Regions from separate parts of the Homo sapiens genome. Here region 2 is linked to region 1. Evidence: fine-mapped expression QTL. A gene starts in region 1. The other region holds a variant in brackets. All regions are shown on one strand. Distances are between the middles of the regions.

Evidence for each region. PIP is the estimated chance that this variant, and not a neighbour inherited with it, causes the effect. A credible set is the group of variants that fine-mapping cannot tell apart.
Region 2: its variant is the best candidate, but not a certain one, in a credible set for the expression of HECW2-AS1 in whole blood (INTERVAL, PIP 0.84).

What each region holds. Positions count from the first base shown.
Region 1 is chr2:196,257,778-196,263,117 of GRCh38, forward strand. HECW2-AS1 (HECW2 antisense RNA 1) reads left to right here and starts at 2,247. Exons shown (of 3, transcript NR_110226.1): 1 at 2,247-2,463; 2 at 2,554-2,595; 3 at 5,274-5,340. HECW2 (HECT, C2 and WW domain containing E3 ubiquitin protein ligase 2) reads right to left here. Exons shown (of 29, transcript NM_001348768.2): 18 at 46-129. RefSeq lists an enhancer at 1,716-2,915.
Region 2 is chr2:196,308,981-196,314,368 of GRCh38, forward strand. All of the region lies in intron 10 of HECW2 (HECT, C2 and WW domain containing E3 ubiquitin protein ligase 2), which reads right to left. Among named protein-coding and RNA genes, the nearest start is that of HECW2-AS1, 52 kb to the left of the region's middle. The variant T/C (reference allele first, on the strand shown) is at 2,244.

The sequences.
Region 1 (5,340 bases):
ATGACAAGAGACCTTCTGCTTCAAGAGTGAGTGTTACGTATGTACCTCAGCAACATAACAAGGTCTGCATCGCTTGAAAGGCGCACCAATCCTGGAGTCCCTTCAGTTCGGATAAATTGGATCTTCTCCCTAATCAAGAAAAGAAACAGCACAAAATGTATATGGTAGACCTTTAGGCTATAACTCAGTAGTAAAGAGCATTTTTTATAATAGTCATGATGTTTTTTGGTACCTATTATGTGGCAGCTACTGTGTAATACCCTAGGAATACACATCCAAGAGAGACATGGTCTTTGCCTTCAAGGGGGGGGATCTTGTAAGCATCAACACCTCCCAGTTCTAATGTTGTGGGGAGAAAGATTCTTTCACTGGCTTCATCATTTTGCTGCCCAAGTACTATAAATAGTATACTATTCAACCAATAAAATCAGTGTCTGCTTTGAGTTAAAGCTGACTGTGGGCCTGAATTTTAGCGATATAGTCTTACGCTGATGCCCTGCTGTTCCAAAAAGGGATTGTGTTGGGAGAGTCATCTATTTTCCTGAGGCCATACCTTTAAGTTGCATGTGATGAGCTCATTCCTAATTGGAAGCAGATAGTATCTATGCATTATATATTCAGTGTAAAAGCATATGTATATATTCAGTGTAAAAGCATATGCCTTTTTTAAATAAAGAAAAAACTGAAATACTTTGCTACAACAGTTGGTGAAATAGATTGTGTGCATACCTGTGCAAATGTATATATACATATACATATCAAACACAAGGTGAGTTATTTCTACCATTATTTTGTTATAGGTAAATGTGATACCAGCTTTTTTCTTTTTTGTTTGATGAGTCATCATCATGTCACTATTTTCAATTTGTTATATGAATACAATTTTAATAATTTTTTTCCTAGTTGCTTTCTTCCCTTATTTACATCATGCTATTTCAAAGCACACCATATTAACTTTTATAAGATGAAGAAAAATATAAAAACACAAATTATGGTACTAAAATCATTCTATTTCATTGGAATATACAGGATAATGCAAATATGCAATTTTATTCTGAGTGCTATGGACAATATATTCTGATTCCTATACCATAAAGTAAAATACCAATCACTGATACAAGTATTTATTTAGATTTAGTTCTTATCTACAAGCAACTTGTTTTTCTACTTGATATTTTCACAAAGTTCCACTGATTTTTTTGTTTGTTTGTTTTGAGACAGGGCCTTACTCTGTCGTCCAGGCCAGAGTGCTGTGGCATGATCTTGGCTCACTGCAACCTCTGCCTCCTGGGTTCAAATGATTCTCCTGCCTCAGACATTTGAGTAGCTGGGATTATAGGCATGTGTCACCACGCCCAGCTAATTTTTGTACTTTTGGTGGAGATGGGGTTTTGCCATGTTCGCCATGCTGGTCTCAAACTCCTGGCCTCATGTGAGCTGCCTGCCTTGGCCTCTCAAATGCTGGGATTATAGGCGTAAGCCACCATGCCTGGCCAAGTTGCACTGATTTTTATATTCCCAAATTTGAAATATTTTTCTTAAGATTGCTTGCTGACTTGAAGGCACTGAGGTGGAAGGCAAGGTTTCATGTTCACATGAAAAATTCCCTAATGCATAGAAAAGTCAATGGATTTGCCCTTAGCCACACAGCTTATGAGGTATGACAAACAGAGTTCAGTCCTTGGTTTCTTCTGGCTAGATCCATTTTATATGATAGATGAAGCAGCTAATCTTTAGTATTTGCCAAACTTTCCTTTCTGTACTTTATTGCCAGCAGCTAACTACTATTTTTTTTTTAAAGACTATTAGAAATTAGTGGTAGGCATGTACGTAAAGGAGTTGCTCAGAAGGCCAGCCTCTCTCTGCTTAAGGTTATTTCAGTGAAGGCTTGAACCAGGCAGAACATTTTCCCTCAAGTTTTGGAATCATACATCTGAAACACGTGATGGAAACCCAGGCCCATTATCTGGTGAATGGTTTTTCTGATAAGAGATGTAAATGTTGGCTGATAAAAGCTAAATCAGAGGAAAGTTATCTTGAAGAAAAATGAATAATAACTTAACCAAAGAACTACTCTTATAAGGGTCAGTAACACCATGCTTTGATCTTGAAGAATCAAAAGCTATCTCCCACAAATATGCAGCTTATCTCTTTTGTCTATCAACACAGTGAATCCAGGCAAACAGAACAAGACAAAAAACAAACAGGCTGAGCACTCTCCCCTCCTTCCTTAACTGGAGCTACACAGAAGGAGTTGAGTGATGGTAGATATCAGGCCCTGGTCTGCGGCTTGGAAGTTTCCTGTGAATAAGAAAAACATCATCGCTTCTTGAGTCACAAGGATGATAGGATGAGAAAAAGAAAGGACAAAGGCACCAGAGGAGGTATGCCAAATGGGAAACTTTTCATCACTTTCCAGATAAAAACTAGCAGTCTGTGAAGGCAACTGGTCTGATTTTTCAGGTAAGAACATATGAGAGGCAGGCTGAGACCAATTTTCTACCAGGCCAGCTAATTCATCACAATGACAAGCTATGGGTCATATGCTTTCAGGAACCAGACACTGGAACATGTCGTCTGATGTACATCACACCAGTAAGTACTTTCTTATGTTGATATTGAGTCATTCTTTCAGTGAACATTTTCTGCGTGCCTATTGTGTGCCAGTCATGGTACCACACGCTGGGAATCCAATGGGGAGTAAGAGAAAGTCCCTTTTCAAGGAGCTTACAGTGCAGTGGAAGAGAGAAAGTTAAAAGGTAATTCTCATTTGATGTGAAAATATTTAAATTCTTCTGTTCACTTAATTGAAGCGTGGTTAGGCTTTATACCTTCTCCCGGTCTAAACAGTTCTTTATAAAGTCCTTTCACGTAGAAACAAAGAAGGCATTAGTTTACTGCCTGTAAAGAGAGCAGATCAAGGCTGAGGAACAGACAGAAGTCAGCAGACGTCCTGGAAATGTCACCAATCTTTTCTGAGAAAAACAAAGGAACCACTTCTTGGTTACCAGGTATTTGCCCAATATGCTATAGACCAGTGATTCTCAAACTGGCATCCTTGGTCTACTAGAAATTTGCATACATAAGCTCAAGCTCTGCAAGAATTTTTAAATTTTGTGTCTTCACTTCGATGATCAAAGCACATGAAACAATATAATAATATTTTAGATGAGATGGATGACATTTATGACTGAATCTTGCCATATGACTTCGGGTCCCATGTTTGTATTTATAGGGCACTTGGTGCAAAGTGATCAGAGGTGAGCTTTTAAAGGGACGGCGAACACACCTGGCTGCCCTTAGGCTGTCAGGGCCTTGATGTTCAATATGATAATAACACCAGTCCCCATCTGCCACTTACGCACACTTCGCTTAGCAATTAAAAAAACCTTTTCTCTTACAGTATTAACTTGCATCATGAAAATGATCAAGTGGGGTTAAGTAATGTATATGTAAATTACCACAGGCTAAAGAGAAAATAAAAGAGATGGATTTAAAAAGAAAATTATGCATTCATGCTAAATAATGCATAAAAGATATCCTGGCTTATTCTAAGAACAAAAGCTCTGCAATAGTTTGCAAATAGAAAAGTGGTGGTAGAATCCACTCATCCCAAGGCACATTCAATGATATGTTTTATCCTTCAGTATTGTATTTCAGGTTACACTATTAAATGAATTGGCTTATCAAACCAATGAATCAGTAGATAAAAATAAGCTTTTTGTTAAGAAGGAAAAATGATGACTGATAATTCCAAGGAGGCACATGCTAGGCCAGAGATGCAAAAAATCAAAAGAATCAAGTCAAACACAAGCACAGAAAGGTGCAAATGTGTCTTTCCACCAATAATGGTCTCAACATTGGTGATTTGGCTTCTGAAAAACAAAGTATCCTCATATTAATAGCATTAATTCAAATGTTATTGATTTTTTCTAGTTTTTAACTTAATTTGTATGTCTTTTGGTTTTGTAGTTTATAAAAGCTGTAAGCATAAGAGGTTTATACATATTTTATATTTGTACACATTTAAGTTTAAAATAAAAGTGACTAACGTCAACATTATAGGTCCGCAATATTTCTTTTTCCTTTTAGAGTGGAAAAATAACAGATGTGACTCTTACAAATTTTCATGAGTCCACCCAGCGTTTGGAATAACATAACAAGTTTGAGAAATGTTGTTAAAGACAACTGATCATGATTAGAGGAATGTTTGAAAATTACTTTAATATATTTATTCAAGTTTATAATGTATACAGTTAGAAGGAATCTGTGGCAGTCCTCTCTGTTGCCCAGTCTAGAGTGCAGTGGTACAATCATAGCTCACTATAGCTTCAAACTCCTGGGCTCAGGTGATCCTCTTGCCTCAGTCTCCTGAGTAGGTGGGACTACAGGTATGTACCACCACACCCAGCTAATTTTTAAACATTTTTGTAGAGACAGGGTCTTGCTATGTTGTCTGGGCTGGTCTTGAACTCCTGGCCTCAAGTGATCCTCCTGCCTCAGCCTCCCAAACTACTAGGATTATAGGAGTGAGCTACTTACTGCATCAGCCTGGCTTCTTCTTAACAAAGAAATTCAATTCAACCTCAGTGGTAATATAATGAAGATTAAGGTTATACTAATACAAAGTATTATCATTTGGCTCTCTCTACATGGGTACGTTTATCTCTCTGTGCCCCTTAGAGTACATTCTAGCACTTTTATGGGTACACCTTCTGATTTGGCTAGTGAGGTACAACTTAAATTCCTTTTGAAACATAAGTTTCTTCAGGGCAAAAGCCCTTGCTCCTTTATCTTTTTTTTTTTGAGATGGAGTCTCACTGTGTCACCCAGGCTGGAGTGAAGAGACCCAATCTCGACTCACTGCAACCTCTGCCTCCCGGGTTCAAGTGATTCTCCTGCCTCAGCCTCCAGTGTAGTTAGGATTACAGGAATGCGCCACCATGTCTGGCTAATTTTTGTATTTTTAGCGGAAATAGGGTTTCATATGTTGGCCAGGTGAACTCCTGACCTCAAGTGATCCACCCACCTCGGCCTCCCAAAGTAGCTGGGATTACAGGCACGAGCTATGGTGCTCAGCCCGTCCTCCTTTATCTTTGTGTTCCCCAAGTACAAAACACTTTTCTGTCTACCTGATAAGTGCTTAGTAAAATACAAAGCAGGGACATGATTAATTTAGGCCAAAATAACGTATGTGGCTCCTAACAATTTCCACCCGGTGTTTGGAATAAACAATCTTGCTATCTTTTTTTTTTCTTTTTTTCCTGTGGCAGAGAAATAAAAAAAGAATTGGAAAGCCAATGTCCAATTATTTACTAAAACAGAATCCACTGGAGAGAA
Region 2 (5,388 bases), 51 kb after region 1:
TTTGTGTAAGTTATTTTTTGAAATTAATAAGCATTTTTCTCCTGACACATTCAACTATCCCAAAACTGTCCATGTGATCACATGCTTATCAACAGACACAGTGGGGCTAATCCTGGAGACCAGAAGGAGGGCATATTTTCTCCTGACCACCTATGGCATTTGCTCTGTAAGGGAACAGGGTAAGTATCCCAACAGAGTCCTTAGGGTTGGAAAGACCTGCATGGTAGAGCTCAGCCTGCACCAGACCATTGCTGAAGGCCATCACCTCAGCTAGGAGCAGAAAGACATCTTTTGTTGATCTCAGCACATTGTAATTTATGACAAATGGCAAAAGAAAGAGGAATTGGGCTGAACAAAAGCACCACACAGACAGCAAACAACTCAATGCCATTCATGTTCCAAGGTAACACAGACTCTACCATGAAACACCCTGCCAAATCTGAATTCTTTGGGCACTGCAGTCCCATCAATAAGACATTTTCAAAAGACCTCACGCCCAGCCTGTTGATATGCTCACAAATAGCAAGTACATTAAAGCATCTTCAGGAACCATTTTTCAAAACACTTTGATTTATTTCACTGTTTTGCTCTGCTCCTTGCATGCTTTTCCATCTCAAAAGATTTTGGGAACCAATTACCCCATCTCATTCCTTTCTCATCGGAGTCAGGGTAATTCAGGCACATAGACATCAAATCAAATACACATGAAAAGAAATGACCAATTCTTCTCCAAAGAATGTTTACAGTAGTCCCAATTTTAAAAATGTAGAATAGGTCAATTCAGGATAAAAAAATAGAGACCAACTAGACCAGCTAAAGGAAACAGAGAGAGAAGATGCTGCCAAACTCCCAAGATTAGATTATTACTAAAATTTGGCTCTTAATTTTCTGGCAGTTATGGCAGAAAAGAAAACATATTGTTGCATACTTTCCATTTTCTGACAAAAACAGTGAAAGAAATTCTCAAAGATGGAATTTTTTCCTGGAACTAACAAAGTAGGAATTTACCAAGTGAAATATGACTATGGCTTGCTTGAGGTCTATATGTATAGCAAAATGGCTAGGTGGAAGAGAGAACAGCCAAATTAATGTGTCTTGCACATAGCATGTAATAAATGAAAAAATAATTTAAAATGACACAAAGCCACAAAAAAGAATGATTCTTGTATTCATCTTCTACAAAGGCCAGTAATAGCCTTAATTTATAGTTCAATAAAGACCTTTCAATGTGCAATGGGGAGAATAAGAAAACAAGGACCAAAAATTTGCTTTCTAAGGTCATGGAACACTGAACACATATTAAAATTATCCCTATCAAATACTGTATCTTCACACTGATGTAATTACTCAAGACCCCATAAAGACAAATTCTATAGTGCCAATTTCAAGTGAATGCTTGGCTCTGAATCAGGAAGGGCTGTTATGCTATTGGTTTATCCATGAACTACATATCCACTTCTACCCACGCTGTCAATATCATTCTACCCAGGCAAAGGCAGCAGAGGTGCCTGCAGGAAGGTTAGCTCTCTGTTGTATCTATCAAAGTTACTTTGCTGGGTACAACTGCTCCAACATCTTATATGTCTTTATATTGGGCCTGGTTTGTTTTTGGTATAAGAAAGCATATGAAAACTCATTTCATAGCATCAAAGTTTCTTTCAGATAGACAATGCTAAAATGAGATAGGCAGAGTTAGAAGGCTGAGGACTTAACATTTACTTCCTTGTCTTGCCACATTGTCAAATATGTTATATAATCAGGGTGCAGTGAAAACGAGAGCAACGATTTTGTGTGTGTGTGTGTGTGTGTTTTGCACTGAATTGGGAGGTAGAAGGCCTGATTTCTGGCTGTGGCTTGACACACTTTCACTACAAGACCTTAAAAAAAGTCACTACACCCCTATGAATCACAGTTTTGAAAAATTAGAGGACACAATCAAACAATTGCAAAGGTCTCTTCCAGTTCTAGTATTCTAGGAATCTATAAAATTATGCCCATTTTATTATATTAAGTTCAGCAAGAACCTAGTAACATTTTATGTCTAGGCTAGCCTTACAGGGCCAGGAGATTTGAGTCCCTGAGGGACAGGGCTCCACAAACACCTGACAATCCTATTTTAGCCATGACAGCTCCAATGTTATTGCTGTGTATATTGGTGTTCCACATAATATTTCATTTGCATAAATAGCTTCATGACAATAATAAGGTTTGAAAACTATTACCTACAGAAATGTTTCTCAAGG[T/C]AGGTGGACTCTGACAACATGTGCCAGAATCACTTTGAGGATCAATAAAAATGCAGATTCCTATGATGCACCCCAGGTCTTCAGAATCAGACTATCTGAAGCTAGGGCTCAGTTATCTACACTTTTAACAACCTTCTCGGCTTATTCCTAGACACACTAAAATTTGAGCAACACTGACACAAATTAATAAGAACTTAAAACAGTAGCTAGTTTGCTGAACAAACCCATGAGGCAAATGCTAGATTTCTCAGAGACCATGAAATGGGGGCTCACAAGAAACTAAACCTCAGCGGCCGGGTGCGGTGGCTCACACCTGTAATCCCAGCACTTTGGGAGGGCAAGGCGGGCAGATCACCTGAGGCCAGGAGTTTGAGACCAGCCTGGCCAACTAGGTGAAACTCTGTCTCTACTAAAAATACAAAATTCAGCCAGGGGTGGTGGTGCATGCCTGTAATCCCAGCTACTCAGGAGGCTGAGACAGGAGAATCACTTGAACCCAGGAGGCAGAGGCTGTAGTGAGCTGAGATCACGCCACTGCACTCCAGCCTGGGTAACAGAGTTGGATTCCATCTCAAAACAACAACAACAACAAACAAACAAAACCCTAAACCTTGCCTAAAATCCAGGTGCAAGTAGACTCTTAGACACCCTAAGACTTAAATATAAATAGGCGCTTTTCAGTGGCTGGACATGAAGGGAAAGTCGGAGAATTAGAAAGTGGGTAAAACTACTCCAAGGTTACTGTCACAGCACTGGTCTCCTCAGCAGGGAACAGAGGCAGGTAGAACGTAAGGTCTTCAGAGTTTACAGTTTTTAAAATCAACATATGTGGGAAGGGCGCAGGGTTGTTTCTGTGATCCCTCTGCTCATCTCATCATCCTTTCCCACTCCCTTCAAATCAGACCTCGGTCTCCACTGGACCACTTGGCTTATGATCGGATGAGGTGTGAATACATCTCAGTGGATGCTGATATTGAGAAGTTAACAACTAAACAGCATGAATTACAACGTATCAGGGATGGGTGGGGGGGTGCTATGGGTAGGGTTTTGAATTGGTTATCATTGGATTTAGTAAAATCAAGCACCTGATTGTTGTGAAATAAATGTATAAATCCACTATAAAAAACTATAATAACCACAGGTATCATCACCAAAATGGCGAGATGATTAAGTTCTAATGAACTAAAGGTACTTTCAAGGAAAATTATAAGCTTTGTGATAAATGACAGATGACAGTGTTTAAAAATATTTTTTTCTTATTTGAACACTCAAGGAAGTAAAATTCCATTTGTATAAAGTACAAAAGTAGGCTAAACTTATCTATGACTTTAGGAATCAGGACGGTAGGTCCATTTCCCCATACGGAGTTGCGGTCAGTGATTGAAAGGGGGTACAAAGGGGACTTCTAGAATGCTGATGGCGTGGCCTGCCATGTATGTTTAGTAGAAAGAATTCGGGAGGCCATATGTGCTCTTTTCTGCTATTTTATTTGAACAAAAAGTTTTTTAAAAAGTCAAGTAGTTGCATATTTGGCACTTTAATCTTCAATTTTTAATAAGGTAGCTTTTTAGTTTAAAAGTATCCATTTTTTCCTCAAAACAAAGTTGTAACCTTAGAGAATAAGAGTCCCTAACCCTAAACATAGTAGAAATTCTAAGTTTAGATTAATTATACTTTTCAGATTCACTGCATGGTTTTAGGCCTTCATTTTAAAAAATACTTTAATAATGAAAGTATACAACCACAAAAATGATAAATGTTCCCCCATAGTTTGAACCCCTCACATAAGTAATAGACGAGTCCTAACAATATGCAACATCCTGGGATCCTATCAGAGTCCACTAACCCAGACTGTTCATCTTGAATCTAGGCCTATTCCTAGAAAAACTACCATTTTGGGGGAAAAACGTTTATACAACAATTCCATATTGTCTCCAATGCAGCAATGGGTTAAGTCACAATTACACTGGAATCAATAAGAGAAAAAGAAAATAGTTTTTCAGAGGGGCTGGGCTGGCGATTGTTTTTTCACTCATCTTAATGCTAAAAAGACCAACATTTGTCACACCGATAATATTTTAGAGGGCTTTAGCCCTCAACTACCTCTAGCTGACAGGACCATCAGTAACATCAGAATGAGAAGATACAGAAAATTCTTAAGGCATTCTGGGCATAATTGAGTCCAAGCTACTTCCCTGGGAGGCTCTCAACAGTGTCATGCTGACTCCAAGGCCTGGAACTTTCTTATTTTTTACGAATCATTAGAATATCTCTCAACCAGAGCTGGAGTTACACAAGCCACCAAGGCCACAGTGCACTCTGTGTGGTCTAAGGCAAGAGTAAGATTTTGAGAACCAATTGGTAGATCACCATCACCACTGATCAAACTTAGTACTAAGTCCAAGATCTGTTCCCTTCTTGAGATGGGAGAAATAAGAATGAAAAAAGAAGAAAGCAAACAAGTAAATCCCTGAAAATATGATGAAAAGGTGCTAAAATAACAAGAACAACAATAATAATGATAAAGAGAAAGAAAAAAGAATCAAAGCCAGACACAGTGGCTCGCACCTATAATCCCAGCACTTTGGGAGGCCAAGGTGGGAGGATTGCTTGAGGCCAGGAGTTCAAGGCCAGCCCTGGCAACATAGTTAGACCCCTGTCTCTACAAAAAATAAAAACACAAAAAAACCAGCCAGGCATGATCATGCTTGCCTATAGTCCCAGCTACTCAGGAGGCCGAGGCAGGAGCTTCACTTGAGCCCAGGAGTTTGAGGCCGCAGTGCACCATGATCATGCCACATGGTGGCCATCAAAGCTCAAACTACACTGCTTCAGTAGCTTGTCCCTAGGGTAGAAAGAGAGTGACCTGCACAGAGAGGAAAGGTGCTGCTGGGTCTAATACAGATGCTGAATAGAGCACATCTATCTGGACCACATGATGTTGGCTCAAACCCCTGCAGCCACTTCCCTAATAGGTGAGGGGCCTCCTTGGGGAGGGCCTCTTTGCATAACTCTATCCCAGAAGAAGAGAAAGCTGAGCACCTTTTGAGTCTTCCTGGTGGGTCTGACCTCAAAGCACTGCAATATATTGAAGTTTCAGTGAAACCCCCAAACCCTCTGATGTGAGGCATTGGTGGTGCCCAAT